Homo sapiens: one gene and its partners. The protein of the gene in region 3 purifies or fractionates together with the protein of the main gene of each other region. This does not show direct contact. Each region holds a gene or a part of one and is shown on either strand. Other genes may lie near its edges. The genes, in order: DLD, SVIL, ASB15 and GPI.

What was found.
Region 1: the proteins of ASB15 (region 3) and DLD purify together in Homo sapiens (affinity purification with mass spectrometry, with the first as the bait; one large-scale study listed by BioGRID). This does not show direct contact.
Region 2: the proteins of ASB15 (region 3) and SVIL purify together in Homo sapiens (affinity purification with mass spectrometry, with the first as the bait; one large-scale study listed by BioGRID). This does not show direct contact.
Region 4: the proteins of ASB15 (region 3) and GPI purify together in Homo sapiens (affinity purification with mass spectrometry, with the first as the bait; one large-scale study listed by BioGRID). This does not show direct contact.

The regions. Positions count from the first base shown.
Region 1 is NC_000007.14:107,914,021-107,919,100, forward strand, and holds part of DLD (dihydrolipoyl dehydrogenase, mitochondrial isoform 1 precursor), read left to right. Parts: intron 1-1,485; coding exon 1,486-1,676; intron 1,677-2,773; coding exon 2,774-2,944; intron 2,945-3,252; coding exon 3,253-3,442; intron 3,443-3,903; coding exon 3,904-4,041; intron 4,042-4,989; coding exon 4,990-5,079; intron 5,080-5,080. UniProt on the Homo sapiens protein: Lipoamide dehydrogenase is a component of the glycine cleavage system as well as an E3 component of three alpha-ketoacid dehydrogenase complexes (pyruvate-, alpha-ketoglutarate-, and branched-chain amino acid-dehydrogenase complex).
Region 2 is NC_000010.11:29,459,429-29,464,750, reverse strand, and holds part of SVIL (supervillin), read left to right. Parts: intron 1-1,115; coding exon 1,116-1,259; intron 1,260-2,349; coding exon 2,350-2,474; intron 2,475-5,322.
Region 3 is NC_000007.14:123,628,484-123,633,805, forward strand, and holds part of ASB15 (ankyrin repeat and SOCS box protein 15), read left to right. Parts: intron 1-380; coding exon 381-951; intron 952-1,482; coding exon 1,483-1,636; intron 1,637-5,322.
Region 4 is NC_000019.10:34,367,271-34,372,592, forward strand, and holds part of GPI (glucose-6-phosphate isomerase), read left to right. Parts: intron 1-1,312; coding exon 1,313-1,432; intron 1,433-5,322. UniProt on the Homo sapiens protein: In the cytoplasm, catalyzes the conversion of glucose-6-phosphate to fructose-6-phosphate, the second step in glycolysis, and the reverse reaction during gluconeogenesis.

The DNA of each region.
Region 1 (5,080 bases), about 16 Mb from region 3:
TGTTTATTGATTTACATATGTTGAATCATCCTTGCATCTCTGGGATGAATCCTGCTTGATCATGGTGAATGATCTTTTTATGTGTTGTTGAATTCAATTCATTGTGGTTTTAACTTAGATTTCTCTAATGACTTACGGGGTTGAGCATTTTTTAATGTACTTACGTGCCATCTCTATATCTTCCCTCTTCAGACATTTGTCCATTTTTTATTGAATTTTTCTTATTGAATTTGGAGAATTCTTTATATATTCTGGATATAAATCCCTTATCAGATAGAAGTTTTGTAATTTTTTTCCCCAGTCTGTGGCTTCTGTTTTTGTGTTCTCAATGTTATCTAAGACTTTCTAATTTTGACAAAGTCCAATTTATCATTTTTCTTTTATGGATTGTGCTGTTGGTGTTACATCAAAGAAATCTTCGCCTAACTCAAGGTCACTTCTAGGATTTCTTCTCCTAGGTGTTCTTCTGGAAGTTTCATAGTATTGGATTTTACATTTAGGTCCATGATCCATTTTGAGTTAACTTTTATATATACGTATTGTTAGATTTTTAGTGTCACTATATTGCCTCTAGTTAACTCAGTCTTCATACTAGAAATTAATGAGATTTTTTAAATGAACGCCCACACCTAATTTAGGGAAGGTAAACTTTTATAGTTCATTTGAATTACCAGATGATTTTAATATACATTCTTGCAAAGGATATGTTCATGGTTTTTCATATTTAATGCTGTGAAATTATGTTCATCTTGCCAGTTATGTATTGTTTAATATATAATTATTTAGAAGTTATACTAATTGTCAAAATGTTAAAATAAACTAGCATTCAGTTTAAATTATAATTTGAATGAAAAAGTAAACATTTGTCCTTTGTTGAGAAAAGAAAATAGGAAGCCAGTTTAATATTCTGCAAACATCAGTGATTTAGTAACCTGTTTCCTTTTCCTCAAGACTTTTGTACTTGCTGTTTCCCTCTGCCTAGAGCAACACTCTTGCCCCAGTTAACTGGGTAGTTCATTGCCTCACTCCTTCAAGTTTTGTGCAAATGTCACTCCCAGTGAGGCTTTCCCCAAACGTGCTATTTAAAATTGTAATCCCAGTAATCAGTGGTCCTAGTTCTACTTCCTGTTTTATTTTTCCTGTAGCACTTTATTCTCTGTTATGAATTTTACATATTTGTCTATGTCCCCTGCCAGAATATAAGATCCCTGAGAACAGAGATTTTTGCTTTGTTTACTAATGTATGCCTAGAAGCTAAAATATTGCCTACCATGTAGTAGATGTTCAACAAATGTTGAATGAGTAAGTTAATAAATGTATGAAGTTATACATATTTAACACAGGGTCAATTTTAAACCTCGGAGCTTCTCATAGGAACATACTAGCGAAAGAAGAAAATGTTTTACAATAAATTATTAAGATGATTTCGTAAACATTTGCTATAGAAACTTTTATGATTATTGGGTTTTTTTAATTTATTTGCAGGGTTCAGTTTGGCAAAGACTTGGTGCAGATGTGACAGCAGTTGAATTTTTAGGTCATGTAGGTGGAGTTGGAATTGATATGGAGATATCTAAAAACTTTCAACGCATCCTTCAAAAACAGGGGTTTAAATTTAAATTGAATACAAAGGTTACTGGTGCTACCAAGAAGTCAGATGGAAAAATTGATGTTTCGTAAGTATACATCATTTGTTTTTGATGTATCATCCCTGTCTCTTTAAGCAAAACACTCAAGTTTCAAAATCAGTTTAGCAAATATAGGGTTTTTTCTAACTTAAGGTCATTTTATTACTTAATATAACTCAGTTGCTTATCAAATTATTGCATTAGCACATTGAAATTTATGATTAGGTTAATGCTAGAAAGAGAATCCAATATTCTCATTGTTGTGCCTTCTTATAGTACATTCAGAAAAATTTAAATTCCCAATAATAAGTAAAATTGAATCAATATTTTTAGGCAGATACATGGGGAAATCAATAATAAAAGATTGCTTACTATATGTCTGGTACTCTACTGATTAAATACTTTAATGGCATTTAACTTATTGAATTAGTTTTTAAATAAATATTTAAATTAAATAGTTAATAGTATTTAAATAGTTTAATGACTTTTACTCAAAGATAAGAAGCTGAATTCATTGACTAATTAATGACTAACTTGTCACACAGCTAGTGGGTGGCAGTCAGTAGTTGAATTTGGATTTCTGTGACTCAAAGACCTGTATTCTTAACTGCTGTTTTATTATACTGTGGTTTTTGTGAGATTTTAATAACAGACCTCTAGATTTTAATGATAGATCTCTTTCATTGTCTGACTCTTATGTTTATATTCAAATAAACTTATATTGTTAAAAATGTCATCAGTGCCGGCTGGGCATGGTGGCTCACACCTGTAATCCCAGCATTTTGGGAGGCTGAGATGGGCAGATCATGAAGTCAAGAGATCAAGACCAGCCTGGCAACATGGTGAAACCCCGTCTCTACTAAAAATACAAAAATTAGCTGGGCGTGGTGGCGCGTGCCTGTAGTCCCAGCTACTAGGGAGGCTGAGGCAGGAGAATCTCTGGAACCTGGGAGGTGGAGGTTGCAGTGAGCCGAGATTGCACCACTGTACTCCAGTCTGGCGACAGAGCAAGACTCTGTCTCAAAAACAAAACAAAACAAAAATGAAAATGTCATCAACACTTGAGAAATTGCTGGCCTTAAATTTCTAAGCCTATCAATTTATGTAGGTGTGTATTTAACATTTATACACTGTTTGTTATCTAGTATTGAAGCTGCTTCTGGTGGTAAAGCTGAAGTTATCACTTGTGATGTACTCTTGGTTTGCATTGGCCGACGACCCTTTACTAAGAATTTGGGACTAGAAGAGCTGGGAATTGAACTAGATCCCAGAGGTAGAATTCCAGTCAATACCAGATTTCAAACTAAAATTCCAAAGTAAGTTGGATAATTGTCTGCATTTTCAGTAATTTTAAAATTGATTTCAAACAGTATTTTGAAAAGTAAGATTTTTATGCTTAAAATATGTATTGGCTTTGGGGAAGAATAGTAAACTTACAAAATGTAAAATAAAAAATAACTGAATTTTACTCAAAGATAAGCTGAATTCATAGATTTTTGAAGAGCTGCATTTGATGTATTTTTTGGTGACTTGTTTACTGGAAACTTTTGTTACCATAATGTAACTGAAGGTAAGTAGCTGTGATTTCAGAAATTCATTGTGTTTCTTTTGATTTCTGTGGTAGTATCTATGCCATTGGTGATGTAGTTGCTGGTCCAATGCTGGCTCACAAAGCAGAGGATGAAGGCATTATCTGTGTTGAAGGAATGGCTGGTGGTGCTGTGCACATTGACTACAATTGTGTGCCATCAGTGATTTACACACACCCTGAAGTTGCTTGGGTTGGCAAATCAGAAGAGCAGTTGAAAGAAGAGGTAAGTCTGAACATGGGTGGTTTTAAGCCAATGTGTGAGTTGTGCCAATGACATTGGTGGTTGAGAAACAGCATTTTATCATTATGCTAATATATTTAACAGCTGTGAAATATTGTTTAGCTTATATATTTTTCCCTTGTTAGCATTATAAAGAGATCATTCACAGATTTATCAGCAGTAATTGAGAGGAAGAGAAGTTGCCTATATTAAAAAACTAGTAATTCCAGATCTTTTATATTTGGCTTTGAAATATAACCAGATGGACAGACATTTGTATTTGCTTGTATTCGTGCCTGAGATATAGTTCATTAACCAGTCTTCTGGTCTTTCCTTTCCTTCTATGTGCTTTGCGAACAATTCCCTTCTTGGGATTTATTTTCTGAACAAATGGTAGATGATTTTACAAATTGGAAAGAACTTTTCTGGCAGTTACGTAGATTCTTTTTTTCTGACTGTCACAGGGTATTGAGTACAAAGTTGGGAAATTCCCATTTGCTGCTAACAGCAGAGCTAAGACAAATGCTGACACAGATGGCATGGTGAAGATCCTTGGGCAGAAATCGACAGACAGAGTACTGGGAGCACATATTCTTGGACCAGTGAGTATTGTAAAACCAGAGAAATCCCATTAAGATTTCTAGAAAGCATTGCTGTTTATTAATTATAAACCACCTGGTGTTAGTCTGAGGTTGCTCATTTCCAGCAAAACTTTGAATATGGCTCTCTGTGCATCATTTCTAGAAGGATACCAGCAGCACTCTCACAGTCTTGCCCACTGTATCATCTACTTTGTCCTGCAGCCAAGATTCTCTCTTTAAAACATACACCAGATTATGCCCCTTAAAATCCTCCAGTGGTGCTTTTCAACTTCAGATTGTTACATCCAAGGCCTCACTGAATCTGTTTGTGCCTACTTCTCTGACCTCTTCTTTTTCTGCTCTCTTTTACTCATTAATGCCATGTCACATGGGCCTTCTCTCATTTTCACAACAGACCAAATATTTGCATTTTAGGGCCTTTGTGCTTAAGATACCCTCTGCTTAGACTGTTCTGCCTCCAGATCTTTGAATGGCTGGCTCCTTATTATTCAGGTCTCAGCTCAAATGTTACCTCCTAAGGGAAGCCTTTCCTACCACTGAGCCTAAAGTATGTATCTTTCTTGTAGATATCTCTTGTATCTGATGTAACAATAATGAGAATAGAATATTTGAGTGCTGTGTCACTTTAGTATACATTTTGTTATTTTTACATCAGCTTTTTGAAATAGGTGCTGTTATTTTTGAGGTGAAGAAACTGAATGAAGCACAAAGAACCAATGAATGGTTAAGGTAGTAAGTGGTAGATATGAATTGAAGGCCCTTTGGCTCCAGAGCCCAAGCTCTTCTGTGTCACCTTTTCTATTAAGCTTTTCCTGACTTTTCTTCAACTGATAAAGAAACAGATTTAAGGCGTTTTTAAGATCTAAAAGCTTCCCCTCAACAATTGCTATCCTATTAGCATGTAGTTTTTGCCTTGGAAGCAAATTTACTTGGCTTGTTATTTTAAAGGGTGCTGGAGAAATGGTAAATGAAGCTGCTCTTGCTTTGGAATATGGAGCATCCTGTGAAGATATAGCTAGAGTCTGTCATGCACATCCGG
Region 2 (5,322 bases), on a different chromosome or scaffold from region 3:
CAGCACTGAAAGTTTGCCCAGTGCACATGTCATGCTTGGAAAATCAGCCACCAGTAAGAGAGGGTGTGCCCACGCCCTTCATCCTGGGGCTCAGGGCGGGTTATCAACCTCCACTGGGCTTTTAAAGTGTGGTTTTCACAGAATCCTGAAATGCATGTCAGGAAAGGACTTACAGTGAGCCGACTAGCAAGAGTGAGAGGCATTTTGCCACCTGGAGTAAGAGTCAGACTGACAATTTGAGGAGGAGAAAAAGGTAGGAGGAAAAGGCAGTAGAACAGTTTTGATTTTTATTTCCTTTTATTTTATTTTTTAGAGACAGGGTCTTACTCTGTCATCCAGGCTGGAGTGCAGTGGCGCAGTCATGGCTCACTGCAGCCTCTAACTCTTGGGCTCAAGCGATCCTCTCTCCTTAGCTTCCTGAGTAGTGGAGACTACATGCATGCAGCACCATGCCTCGCTAATTTTTTTTTTCTTTTTGTAGAGATAGGGTCTCATCATGTGGCCCAGGCTGGTCTTCAACCTCCGGGCTCAAGCAGTCCTTCCTCCTCAGCCTCCCAAAGCACTGGGATTACAGGCATGAGCCACCACTCCCGGTGGCAGTTTTGCTTTTTAAGGCCCATTTCTCTGTAAGAGAGCCATGAGCTCACCTCACTGCTAAGCAATCGCGTGCAGGGCAGGAACGCCACTGACCTGTCTGCAGTGAGATGTGCGCTCCAGTGTTGATTGTGCTCTTTGGAGATATGCGGTGCTAACAGCCCCTTGAGTGGCACATGCATTATCCCTTCCACTCTTAGCACAGCCCTGCCAGTATCCAGAAGGGCCAGGGCCTTGAGCTGGGGCAAAGGGAGGAGGACCTGGAGGACGAGGAATGAAAAAGACCAACTCCTTGACACCACTTCTCTCTGCCTACAGGCTTCTCCCCGTTGAACTGTCAAAGGGCTGGGGTATCCTGGGTTTCTCTGTTTGCCCCTTTGCCCCTGGTTTGATGGCCAAGGGGGTTTCCCCCTGTGACACTGCAGTCAAGAGGGACAACATCCACTAGGTTGGGGGAGGAGTGAGCTAGAAGTGTCCGTGAAGGAGCTCCTGATGGTCTGGCCCTGTCCCTGCCCTCACAGCACTTTTCCTTGTTGACAATCACCACGAGGTGTACCTCTGGCAAGGCTGGTGGCCCATCGAGAACAAGATCACTGGTTCCGCCCGCATCCGCTGGGCCTCCGACCGGAAGAGTGCGATGGAGACTGTGCTCCAGTACTGCAAAGGTGAGGCTCCCTCTAACATGCCTGCAGCACGGAACAGATGGGGAAGCCCCTCAGGCATGCGCAGCCAGGAGACCCCCTTCCCCTTCTGTGCATGTCAGCCAGCATCCATCCATAAAGCCTGGCAGGTGGTGATGAAACCAATTTTTTCCCCTTTAACTTTTTGAGATGTATTAAGTTTTAGATTAGCGCATTCTCAGCTGCCAGCATGAAGAAGAACTAGTTTTTCTCTCTGATATTATGAGGCTAACTTGTTACCCTCAAGGATAAAGGCTGTATTGTGGAATGCCCCAGGCAGATTAAAACCCCGCTGTACTCGGGGTTGATCATGCTGAGAGACAAGTTGGCCTCTGCCCTGTACATTATCTGCAAGCACTACCACGCTGTTGGAGAATGGAGGTCTCCCCCAAACAGTGAACGGCCATTGCCAACCTTTTTATTATTCATTATTATTTTTAGTATTATATCCAAAGAGAAATACCCATAGTAAGTTCATGGTTCTTTACTATACACATGAAATTTCTAGTCTTTTATATAAAATGAAAATGCCAGTAATTAATCTTATTTAATTTTTATGGTTTCATTGACACAACTAGTTTAATGTCACTGAGTATGTGCAATGGATTCTCTTCCTGAAAAACTCTTTAGCAATAAATAACATATGAAACCTTCCACTCAATGTTATAGTGAATGTGGATGTATAAGATGCTGTCGTTCGCCGTCAGTCATTATGGGAGTTAATCCTGTGCTAGGAAATGAGACGGATGACTCTACAGGTGAATTCAGGAGGAAGAAAATGCTCCACCCAGAAGCTGCAGACAGAGCCTCTCTCTCCCTTCCAGGAATACACAGCGTTTTGTTAGGTTCAAGAAGTATAGACTCAGGTTGATTATAGGTCACTATGGTAGTCACAGGCATGAAACTAACAAACATCTTATATAAACATTATCCATGTGTTGTTATGAACTACTGGTAACTTGCATTTTAAGCATGAAGTCATGAGTTCTGGCAAAGAAGAAAAGATTTCAAGGGAAATCAGAGAAAGACAGGGTCTCCCTGGGGTCTACTGACATTGCAATCTGTGTAACTACAGGAAAAAATCTCAAGAAACCAGCCCCCAAGTCTTACCTTATCCACGCTGGTCTGGAGCCCCTGACATTCACCAATATGTTTCCCAGCTGGGAGCACAGAGAGGACATCGCTGAGATCACAGAGATGGTGAGCACGCTTTCCTGCCCTATGAAGGTGGCTCCTGCGCCTTTTGGATTGTGGGTTAACTTTACTTTGGGGAGAGCATCCAATTGCACTTTCAGAGTGGGAAAATATTTTTCCTTTTGCAACATCTTAACAAACCTACATAGAATTTGCTTAGGAAGAAGAGAAGTCTAATGGAAAATCAATTAACTATTTTAGTAATTTTCTACACGATACCCAAATTTTAAAAACTTAAAAGCAAAGGTGAGTTGAATCATGTTGAGGACTATATATGTACATAAAAGCTGCGAACTCTTCATTCTGTTTGCTAAGAACCTGTTGCTTGGCATTGCTTGTCTCTCAGTGTCCATGTGACGCACAACCAAACCCTCATGTTTCAGATGTTAACCTTGTGTAGAGGAGACACAAACGAAATCTGATGAATTAGTATGTTCAGAAAACTGAATGAATGGAGGTGCTGCGACTCCCTTATGATAAGGGATCACTCAACATCTCATTAATATTGTCTTTTATGAGACCACCTGGTATTTCTGCATGAGGCATTTATCATAACTTCTATCCACCAAAATATATTATAATCTAGAATGTTTTCTTTTCCAACCACACAGGAAAGAATTTTATTATAGCTATGTTGAATTTCTTATATATGAGCTATTAACATTGCTAGGAATAGCAAATCCAAGGATTTGTTTTGATTTGGTGAGAGATAGGTTTTTTACCATTTTGATTTTTTTTTACCATGTGAGAGCTGCTTTGCTTGGGGAAACGACCCAAGTGTATTTTATAGGAAATTCGAGTAATTTTAAACAAACAGAATCTACTTCTGCTTAGCAATGGAGAGGGCCTGTTGGGTAGTACAGACATCACTGCTCACCCTAACCTGTCTCCCTGGAGCCAAATGGACTTGATGTACACAGGGAAGGGGCTGACTTCAGCTTGGTGTCTGCCGCAGCCGGAACGAGATGTTTCTGTTCACTGCAACTGTGGTTTCGTGAAACCAGAAGGCTCTAGGGATTACGAGCTCTATGGCTGCTGCATGCAGTCTAAGTTCAGGAGTTACCAAATTGCCAGGGGTTCAGTCCAGGGCTTATTGCTCACTACACAGAAGAAAGCCAATCACTGAGACAAGCATAGCCAAGGAAGAAAGTTTATTTGGGTGCTACAGCCAAGGGGAACAGGACATAAGTCTCAAATCTGTGTCTCTGGCCTACTAAAATTAGGGATTTTTATAGCAGGGAAGAAATGTAACCATGTGTGGGAAACAGGAATTAGGGAGGGGTGAGGAAGAGGAGCTGGTCAACAGGAAGCGGGGGGTTGGTTAGGCATCATGGTGGGTAAGGGGTCTGGTAAGCTTCAGGTTTTGTTTTTGTTTTTTGAGACAGGGTCTTGCTCTGTTGCCCAGGCTGGAGTGCAGTGGTGTAATCACAGCTCACTGCAGCCTCCAGCTCCAGGCTCAGACAATCCTCCCACATCAGCCTCCCAGGTAGCTGGGACTACAAGCACACACCATAATGCCTGGCTAATTTGTTTTGTATTTTCAATGAGGTTTTGCCATGTCTCTCAGTCTGGTCTTGAACTCCTGAGCTCAAGCCATCTGCCCACCTCAGCCTCTCAAAGTGCTGGGATTACAAGCATGAGCCACTGCTGGCTTTTTGATACTATTGGAGATGCCTGATGGTTGGTTTCCTGAGAAAGGAACTCAGATAAGACAAATATAACTTTCTCGAATTTCAAGACTAGGAGAGTTAATTTCGACGTTTATTCCAAAGAAATCATAAACATCAGTTCTGTGGCACAGTTGAGCCACTTTCAGAAGGATATAACTCACCATCCTCCCTGTGTATTCACTATAGATCTTGGGGGTTAGCAGCGGGGCCATTTACTGTTGTGCAGGCCTGTGGGATTCCAGCCGGAGAAGAGTCAGGCTTCCCACACCAGCAAGTTATACAAATAATTAACATTCAGCAAGTGCCCACTCTGCACTAGGCACATCTCCAAGCACTTTACACTGATTTTCTCATTTATCACAACAGTCCATCAAGATATCTTATTATTATTCCCATTTTACTGGTGTGGGAGCAGAGACACAAAAACACGAAGTCACTTGGCCAAAGTGACTTTCAGTGAGTGGAGGAGTCAGTACTCAGACGCAGGCAAGATCATCCAAAATTCGCCTCTTCTTTTTTTAGAGAAAGGATCTTGCTTTGTCACCCAGGCTGCAGTGTGGTGACTCAATCATGGCTCACACAAACCTTGAACCCCTGGGCTCAAACGACCCTACCACCTCAGCCACCCCAAGTAGGTAGGACTACAGGTGCACACTTCCATGCCTAGCCTATTTTTGTATTCTTTATAGAGACAGGGTCTCATCATATTGCCCAAGCTGGTCTCCAACTCCTGGATTCAAGGACTCTTCCCACCTCAGCCTCCTACAGTGTTGAGATTACAGGCACAAGTCACTGCACCCAGCCCAAAACCTGCCTCTTGACCACCAGTCTGTTCCATGTATTTCTAATATGAGCAACAGCTCTTAGTCATGCATTCCCACCATCCACCCACCCAAAAGGAGAGCAGCCAATCTGGGGTCCCAAGTTTAATGGAGGAAGAGAATTTACCCAGAATAGTTTGTTCATATTCACACAGTGGTTTTAAAAACAAAAAAATTGATTCTGCTCCAGAATATTCTAGGTGCATTTTCTGACCTTCTTTTTCTATTGCAGATTAAGAAATGGGGCCAGGGGAGGGAAGGGGGGTGTGATTTCTTTTCAGGTTATTTTTTAATATTTATTTTTAAACAAATTCCATTATTTGGAGGCTTCTGGTGTTTAGACTTCAAATCTACTAATCTTAG
Region 3 (5,322 bases):
ATTCCTCTGTGGCATTAGAAAGGCTTACTTTTCTTCTACATTTTTAAAAATAGTATTGGTTGCCTGTAAATATTATATTGTTCAGAGGAGAATTGGAAGATGGGGCGTGTTCTTGAGGAACTACAATTCTAGGAAAAAACATATAAGATGCAGTTTCCCAGGAATATTTAGAACAAAAAGCTAAATCAAAACTGAGCTACATTACACTAAACTAAATAGTTGTACCTCGGCAGACAAAGGTTAAATGTTTCAGTATAAAGTTATCTAGAGAAAATAAGGGAAACTATACAACTTGCATTCACTTATCTAGTGAGAACGGTAGTTTATTTAATTTCTTGATTTTCTTTATGGCAAGTAGATATTTGACTTTTTTCTTTTAGTGCACTGAAATATCTTATCCCAGTAACATCTAAAAATGCAATTCGGAAAAGTGGGCTAACACCAATTCACTCAGCAGCAGATGGACAAAATGCACAGTGTCTAGAACTGCTCATTGAAAATGGTTTTGATGTCAACACTCTACTTGCTGACCACATTTCCCAGAGCTATGACGATGAGAGGAAGACTGCGCTGTATTTTGGCGTTTCTAATAATGACGTTCATTGCACAGAAGTCCTTCTGGCTGCAGGTGCAGACCCAAACTTAGATCCCCTCAACTGTCTACTTGTTGCAGTGAGGGCCAATAATTATGAAATTGTCAGGCTGCTTCTCTCCCATGGAGCTAATGTCAATTGTTATTTTATGCATGTGAATGACACTCGTTTCCCCAGTGTCATTCAATATGCTCTAAACGACGAGGTAATGCTGAGGCTATTGCTGAATAATGGCTATCAAGTGGAGATGTGCTTTGACTGCATGCATGGTGACATCTTTGGAAATTCATTTGTGTGGTCAGAGATACAGGAAGAGGTGCTGCCAGGATGGACATCTTGTGTAATAAAAGATAACCCGGTGAGTTATGCCTTTTCTGCTTTATATTGAGTTATCATCCTAATTTAATACATGTTCATTCAATTAGGGATGTTACAAGAAAAGAAAAATAAACTCTAATTTTTCTATTTTTCTTGTTTTTTCAATTTTTGTATGCAATGATACAGGGATATAAGCATAAATCTAGCCCCCCAACCTCTCCCCCAAAAATATGTTGTTTGTTTTTTCTTGACTTGAAAACTGAATGTAGAAGAATGTGAAAATGTATGTAATTAGTCACTTCTGCCTGTTTGGTAGAATATTGGGGCCAGATGGGAAGAAGCATGACTTCTCCATGCTTTGCTGACTACAATCACATCAGAGCCAGGCGAGTCTTCAGGGCTGATGGTTTCACAGAGAGAAGCAAACAATTTATTTTTAATTTTTGTTCATTACAAGGAGAGATCTTTTATTTTCTGTAGTAAAACAGAGTAATTTTTCCATAACACAATTGAGTGTTTATGTATATGATATTAAAAATACTACTAAATTAAATTTTATCAATTCTCTCAGTTCTGTGAGTTTATTACAGTTCCTTGGATGAAGCACTTGGTAGGCAGAGTTACTCGTGTACTAATAGATTACATGGATTATGTTCCTCTGTGTGCTAAACTGAAGTCTGCACTAGAAGTACAGAGAGAATGGCCAGAAATCCGCCAAATACTAGGTAAAAACCAAAAGTTTTGCCTACAATTTTTAAATTAAGAACTTATATGGGGGAAATTTCTTAATGTCTTCTTTGATACTTTTCCTATGCTACTCTACTGTATTTCCAGAATTATCTGGGTTTTAAAATCATCCTTAACACTTCCTCTGTTGTAAGATACATATTTTCATTTTTCTTTATATTTTCCAGCTTTGTAATTGTATAATGAGTAATACTACAGCTATATTAACGTTCTGATTACAATTCATTTTAAAAATTAACTTCTATAATATCATACAATACGTAGACTGCAAGCTCCATGTGGGTAGAGATCTACTTTGTTTCTTGTTATATTTGCAAGGCTTAGCATAGTGCCTAGTAAGTAGTACATTTCAATAAATATGGAGTAAATGAATGAACAGCAGGGATTAGAATTACTCTTTTTGACATGCTTTCTCTGGGGTCTTTATTGACAAAGTCCTACCATCAAAGGTTAGTATTTGTAGACAGGCCATTTTGTCTTTTCTAGGTGAAAGTTTACCATGAAAATGAATAATACAAGTTTCAATGAAAGTACATTTTTAAATAATGCAAATACAAATAAAAACCAGAAAAATATCATAGATTTGAGATGCTTTCACTTTCAAAATATAAGTTTGGAAAAATAAACTTTCAAAACCTAGTTGGACATCAATTTCATGAAGCCTAAAGAAGCATTATAGAATTTTATATGACATTTAAATAATTTGACATTTTTAATGTACCTGAATCAGCCTTCCCCTGGAATTAGTTCTATAATAGAAGAGACTTTGCAGCAACTAAAACAGGAGTCTTGGAGAATCTGATGAGTAATATAGTATTGTTAGCCCAGAAATTGAGCTCTGGGGTCAGATAGACCTAGAATGAAATGAAATTCTGGCCTTGCCTAGGAGTAGGATTGCTAGATTATAAAATGCATATGTAATTCAGGACTGATGTTTTCATGATAAAAAGCAACAATTTATTGTTACCATTTTTGCTTCTCTAAGTGGAGGAGGATTTTTTTATTTCCTATAAAAAGACCAAGATAGCCATCCTAGTTGTGTGACTTTGAGCAAGTTACTTATTCTTCTTATGCCTAGGTTTTCCCATTGCAAAGTAGATGTAAGATAGTATTAACCTCATAAAGTTGTTGTGGGAATCTAAAGAAATAATGCATATAAGGTGGTAGTGTCTAGAATACTTAAATTACTTAATAAATTTATTTAGTTTTAAAACTAAAGTATTAACATTTTTATGTTTTTACTACATGGTAAGTTTATGTGAGGTATCTGAAATGTATATGTACAGTGTGCTATGAAATATTGTAAAGTATTATCATGCTTATTTTTTACAAATAAAAAGCTAAGCCTAAGGGAAATTACAAAACAGTCTAGACCCTATGCATTCTTGAAAACCACTTCTCTAAGTTCCCTTCCTGGACTTAAGCCCGCATTGAGAGTAAAATCAAAAATCGAGCAGGACAGAAACAAGAAAGGACCCACAAAAAAGTTGGGGTGGCAAACAGAGCCAGGAAACCTCAGAGATCTAACCACCATATTTTGAGTCATTGCAAGAAAATAATAGAGTAAGAAGCTCTGCAAAGTTAGAAGAGCTATCTGGAACCAAGCATCCTTCTAAAAAGTCAAGAAAACTAAATGCAAATAAAAATGAGCAACAGAGAGGGCGCGGTGGCTCACACCTGTAATCTCAGCACTTTGGGAGGCCGAGGCGAACGGATCACGAGGTCAGGAGATCGAGACCACCCTGGCTAACAAGGTGAAACCCCGTCTCTACTAAAAATACAAAAAATTAGCCGGGCGTGCTGGCGGGCGCCTGTAATCCCAGCTACTCAGGAGGCTGAGGCAGGAGAATGGCGTGAACCCGGGAGGCGGAGCTTGCAGTGAGCCGAGATCGCCCCACTGCACTCCAGCCTGGGCGACAGAGCGAGACTCCATCTCAAAAATAATAATAATAATAATAATAGAAAGAAGAACAGAATAATATCCCCACGGGCAATGAATACATAACTTAAAAAATGCAAACCTTCTATTTCAAAAATGAGCTAAAAAGCATGAGGAAAATAATATCAGATATGAAAGAACAATACGAGTCAAAATTTGAAAAATTCAGAAATCAGGTAACAACTGAGGAAAGATTTAGGAATAAAAATTAGAAAAAATTAATGTCAAATGTGAAGACTGAACTAGAATGAAAACAAGAACTAGCAACACAGTTGACAATACATTGAGAGATATAAAAGAGGATATGGAAGAAAAATTGTAAATCAAATATAAACGAAGAAATAGATAAAAGGATTTTAAAATATGTATATTTGTTTATTTCAATAGGTTTTGGGGGAACGGGTCGTGTTGGTTATATGGATAAGTTGTTTGGCGGTGATTTCTGAGATTTTGGTGCACCCATCACCTAAGCAGTGTACACTGTACCCAATGTGTACTCTTTTATCCCTGACCCACCCTTCCCCCTGAGTCCTCAAAGTCCATTGTATCATTCTTATGCCTTTGCATCCCTGTAGCTTAGATAAAAGGATTTGAAAGACAGCTAAAAACATTGATGACAGACAATGAATAGTCAATATATGGATAATAGGATTCCTTGAAAAGGAAAACCAAATCAAGGGAACATAAGAAATACAAAAAACTAAGTTTCAAGAAAAACTTGTAATAAAAAAGAAAGATTTGAAACTATAATATATAAAATACTATATCCTTTGGGCACATAGGCAAAAAGAACAAGTGACTTATAAGAGAAAAAAATAGATTATTATTAAACTTTTCATCAACAATACTTTATGCCAAAAGACAATGGAGTAACATATTTAAGACTCTCCTTGGAAGGAAAATGTGAGGCAAGGATGCTTACACAGCAAAATTGACTTCCAATGATCAATGTAGGCAAACTGTTGTCAGCATGCAAGAACTCAGGAAATATTGTTCCTCTTGCTGACGTCCAAAGGATCCACTAAGAAATGGCCTTTAGACAACCCAAAATGATTAGCGAGATATCACCATGAGGACTAGTATTAAACAAGGCTAACACTAAACAGAATGCCAAGACTAAGTGAGAGTTAAAAGGGAGAAGATGCAATACATAATGGTTATATGCTCTGATAAAATAGATACAGCACAATTATTTATTTTTGAATATTAGTACATAGATAAAATAAATAATATTTAATAATTAGAATACATATTTTTAAATATCTTAAAATATTGATAGTGATATAATATTAATATTGTTATGCTGAGGATGAGAGATATATTCAGTAAATGAGTAATTAAGGAATATTCCAATTCCATTACTCTTTGTATCCTTGAAACCAAGGATTGTCAGTGTGGCAGAAAGAAAATACAGATGTAATAGAGAAGAGATTAAAGAGAAATCCTGTAGTCCTGAATTTGAATTAGAAATAACAATATAAACTCATAAGCTATTTTATCTTGAAAGCATCTGTGTGCATGTGGATTATGCTGAGTGTGTGTGTGTGTGTGTGCACGCGCGCGCACGTGCGTCTGTTTACAGATAAGTCTTAGAAATAATGATGAACCCAGTAGCAATGAGCATTCCTACGACCCAGATTTTGGCCTGGAAATGCCATTTCCTAACAAAAGAAACCAGGGTTTTTGCTGGAGGTTGTTTTGTTTTGTTTTTGAGAAATGGATGAT
Region 4 (5,322 bases), on a different chromosome or scaffold from region 3:
CTGACTCAGTATGGGAGCCCAGCCTGGAGGTATAATGGACACTGAGCACCCAGACTCTGTCCTCATGATGTCATTATCCTCCTCTTACATGTGAGGAGTCTGAGGTTCAGAGGTCACATCACTTATCTAAGATGTCATAGCTGTAAGAGGCAGAATGGAGATTCACACTCAACCTGTCTTGCATTGTGGGTCTAAGCTGAGAGAGGATGCAATCAAGGAAGGCTTTCTGGAGGAGTGCATTTGCCAATAAAATGTGGCGCAGGAGTGGGGTCTGGCAGGGTGAGGGTGGGGTGGCATGAAGCCCTCCACCTTAGCAAGCCTCTCACTGGGTCGGAATCCCAAGATGATCCTTTTCCTGCCCACCTGGGGTCGTTAGACCTTCCCTCAAGGACTCCTCTGCTGACTTCAGGCCATTTCACTCACGTGGCTGGGCCAGCCGCCTGGCACCCGTCACAGACTTCAAGTCTGGTTTGGTTCCTGGCAGTTGGTAGTTATCGGGCTGCTTGGTGAGGGAAGCTTGAGTTGCATGCCTTGCTGCAAATCCAAGGAGCTGAGGACACTGCCTAAAACGTGCCAGCAAACACCATGGACACACATTGGGAGGATGAGGTTACTTCAGGCTTCATGAGCACTCATCTTCGGAAAGCGTTTATTTATTTATTTATTTTGAGATGGAGTCTTGCTCTGTCGCCCAGGCTGGAGTGCAGTGGTGCGATCTTGGCTCACTGCAACCTCTGTCTAATGGGTTCAGGCGATTCTCTGCCTCAGATTCCTGAGTAGCTGGAACTACAGGTGTGTGCCACCCCCACCTGGCTGATTTTTGTATTTTTAGTAGAGACAGGATGTCACCATGTTGGCCAGGCTGGTCTCGAATTCATGACCTCAAGTTATCCACCTGCCATGGCCTCCCAGAGTTCCGGGATTACAGGCGTGAGCCATGGCGCCCGGCCTCTGAAAGCATTTATTGCTTGTTTCTGACATGTATTGTTGCCATTCTCTGCCTTTGCTCACTGTTCCTCTTTTCTCTCACTGTTCATGCCCTGAGCATCTCTGGCAGGCCTTCGGGGCCTGTCCTAGGCATATATGGGTCCCCTCCTCTCCTCCTGACTGTCTGCAGCACATAAGTCCTTGGGGAGCTCCTACTCCTCTAAGCATACAGTGGGTTCTTGGAACAAGGTTATGGTGCTAACAGAGACCTCAGGGCCTGCCTGTCTAGTGGATAGAGGGCCGAGCTATGGCACCATGCCCAGCTGGGAGCATGGCTGCCTGGGGTTGGGGGGGGCAGTCTTTATATCCTGACCGTAATCCCCAGGGTCGAGCCGTGCTGCACGTGGCTCTGCGGAACCGGTCAAACACACCCATCCTGGTAGACGGCAAGGATGTGATGCCAGAGGTCAACAAGGTTCTGGACAAGATGAAGTCTTTCTGCCAGGTAAGTGGCTACTGGGCCGGACTCACCCTTGGCCGTGTGTGTGAGTTATTTGGGAATCTGGGAGCCCTAAGGGGCAGCTCTTCCCTCTTCTTGTAGGCAGGACTCAGGTTCTCACTGCAGCTTAAGGGAGGGGTTGCCTGTGTGATCGCTGACCCTGGAGTCTCTGCTGAGGCCTGAATTTCTCCTGGCTCTGCTCTGAAGGAATCTGCTGCTGGCAGAAGTGGGGCCAGTTTCTTTCCTGAATTGTAGACACCTATGGACTCATGGTGACAAACCACAGAGGCTTCAAATGAAAAGTGGGGCCCCTGAGAGACAGGACAGTCAGGAAAGGAAGGAGCTTTTTCTTTTTTCTTTTTTTTTTTTTGAGATGGAGTCTCACTCTCTCGCCCAGAGTGGACTGCAGTCGTGCTATCTCAGCTCACTGCAACTTCCGCCTCCTGGATTCAAGCTATTCTCCTACCTCAGCCTCCCGAGTAGCTGGAATTACAATTATGCGCCACCCTGCTCAGCTAATTTTTGTATTTTTAGTAGAGACGGGATTTCACCATGTTGGCCAGGCTGGTCTCAAACCCCTGACCTCAGGTGATCTGCCTGCCTCACCTGGGATTACAGGCATGAGCCACTGCGCCTGGCCGGAAGGAGCTTTTTCTAATCTCTTTTGTCATACGCCCTTATCACCCAGTCTAGAAACAGATAAAACATTGTAAAATTTCCTCAACCCTGGCTGGGCGCGATGGCTCATGCCTGTGATTCCTGAACTTTGAGAGGCCGGGGTGGGTGGATCACTTGAGGTAAGGAGTTCGAGACCAGCCTGGCCATCATGGTGAAACCCCATCTCCACTAAAAATACAAAAATTAGCCAGTTTTGGTGACATACGCCTGCAATCCCAGCTACTTGGGAGACTGAGGCAGGAGAATCGCTTGAACCCGTGCGGCAGAGGTTGCAGTGAGCTGCGATTGCGCCACTGCACTCCAGCCTGGGCGACAGAGGGAGACTCTGTCAAAAAAAAAAAAAAATTTCCTCATCCCCATTCCCAGCTAACCCTCCAGAAGCAGCCTTTGTAAAGTTTCCTGTAGCCAGGCGCAGCAGCTCATACCTCTATTCCCAACTATTCAGGAGGCTGAGGTGGGAGGATGGCTTGAGCCTGGGAAGTTGAGGCTGCAGTGAGCCATGGTGACACCACTGCACTGCAGCCTGGGCGACAGCAAGATCGTGTCTCTAAATAAATTTAAAAAATAGAAAAGTTTTCCTGTGAAGTCTTCCAGAAAGTTCCTGTGCACATACACATCTGTCATCTCCTCTTTGAAACACGTACACATGTGCACATGCACACAGGTTGGTTTTCTCCCTGCTCCTCTGAAGCTTATTTCCACCTGGAAGTATGTAAGCAGTGTCCGTGTGTCAGTGACAGTGCATGTAACATGCCTTCTTTTCCTTGTGTGTAGGGTGGTAGGGGTTGCCTCAGAGACCAGCTAAGTTTCCCCACATCAAGCACTTGCCTCAGTGTCTACCCTAGCGGTGATTCTGCAGGGGTGGGTTGGCAGACATCCTCACGTCTGGAGAACGAGGGTGATGCCGGTGTGCCTGTGTGGGCTGTGCATGCTACGAGGGTGATCGTCCAAACTCTTGTCAGCTGTGATCATTTGCTGCTTGTCCTAGGAGCAGTGGCCTCCATGTGTGGCTGGTCAGAGTCCAGTTACTTTGGCCAAGAGCCACTTTCAGACCTGAAAATGGGCTGGGTGCAGTGGCTCACGCCTGTAATCCCAGCACTCTGGGAGGCTGAGGCAGGTGGATCATGTGAGGTCGGGAGTTTGAGATCAGCCTGATCAACATGGTGAAACGCCGTCTGTACTAAAAATACAAAAAAATTACCTGGGCGGGCATGGTGGCGAGCACCTGTAATATCAGCTACTGGGGAGGCTGAGGCAGGAGAATCTCTTGAACCCGGGAGGCAGAGGTTGCAGTGAGCCAAGATCACGCTACTGCACTCCAGCCTGGGTGACAGAGTGAGGCTCTGTCTCAAAAAAAAAAAACCAACAAAAAAACCAACCCATCTCTGGAAAAAATAAATAAATCAGCTAGGTGTGGTGGTGTATCCCAGCTACTTGGGAGGCTGGGGTGGGAGGATTGCTTGAGCCCGGGAGGTTGAGTCTGTACTGAGCTGAGATTGTGCCACTGTCCTCCAGCTCAGGTGACAGAGTGAGACGCCTCCAGGGCAAGGAAGTTGTGGGGTCCTGATGGGAATCTGGATTTCCTGAATGTCACTTAGGGTGATCAGTCCATGTGATGGTCTTTGGGTGTGTGGCGGGGCCTTTCCAGCCATCTGCTGTGAGTGGCAGAGCTGAAGTGCATTAAAAGCCTAGTGCTGTGTGATCAGTCTGGGTGTGCTCAGCCATGCCACATGGCGAGGATGGCACTGCACCGTCTGGGGTGCTGTTTCCAGGAAAGCCTTCCCTTAAAGCTGGCCACTGGAGTACCTGACTCAGGCTGATAAGGTATTTATAGTTCAAAAAAAGTTGCTGAATGGCAGTAATCCCCTGGTGAGGAACATTCCCCATGGCTGTGCTCTCCAAAGTTTGCCAAGATTGGGTGAAGACGTTCACTGTGACCTTGATTGTAGTGGCAAAACCTGAAACCAAGCTGTACTCATTTGTCAGGGGACTTACAAAGTAGAGTCAGCACATATTCATATACTGTCATCCTGGGCACCAATAGGGATTAGGGAGCTATAGTTGGATTGATCTGCCATGCTGTTCAGGATGGACTGGGAAGTTGAAAAAGGAAGTTGCAGAATTGGTGGGTATGGTAAAGACTCATTTGGTCAAATGAAGGCTGGGTGTAATTGTAATAAAGATAGACACATTTGGCTTGGTGCAGTGGCTCACACCTGTAATCCCAGCACCTTGGGAGGCCGAGGTGGGTGGATCACGAGGTCAGGAGTTCAAGACAAGCCTGGCCAACATAATGAAACCCCATCTCTACTAAAAAAAAATACAAAAAAGTTAGCCTGGCATGGTGGTGCATGCCTGTAGTCCCAGCTACTCGGGAGGCTGAGGCAGGAGAATCACTTGAACCCCAGAGGTGGAGGTTGCAGTGAGCCAAGATCACGCCACTGCACTCCAGCTTGGGCAACAGAGTGAGACTTTGTCTCAAAAAGAAAAAAAAAAAGACACATTTTTCCTCTGGGATGCTTCATTATAACAAACCTTTGACAGTCGGGAAAGGAGACTTGCTTTTTTTTTTTTGAGACAGAGTCTTACTCTGTTGCCCAGGCTGGAGTGCAATGGCGAGTTCTCGGCTCACTGCAACCTCCGCCTCCCAGGTTCAAGCAATTCTCCTGCCTCAGCCTCCTGAGTAGCTGGGATTACAGGCATCCGCCACCACACCCAGCTAATTTTTGTATTTTTAGTAGAGATGAGGTTTCACCATGTTGGTCAGGCTGGTCTCGAACTCCTGACCTCAGGTGATCCACCCACCTTGGCCTCCCAGAGTCCTGGGATTACAGGCATGAGCCACCACACCCAGCCAAGACTTGCTTTTTCTAACCTCTTTTGTCACACGCCTGTGAGGGAGGGTTGAGAAGTTGAACAACTTATTTTATTTCTTTCTGTATTGATGGAAATTTTCCCATGGCAGTTTATTTAAAGAAAAAGTAGGGCCAGGCACAGTTGCTCACATCTGTAATCCCAGCACTTTGGGAGGCAGAGGCAAGAGGATTGCTTGAGGCCAGGAGTATAATACCAGCCTGGGCAACATAACAAGACCCTGCCTTTAACAAAAATTTAAAAATTAGCCAGCTGTGGTGGTGTGTACCTATAGTCCTGGCTGCTTAGGAGGCTGAGGCGGGAGAATTGCTTGAGCCCAGGAATTTGAAGCTGCAGTGAGCTAT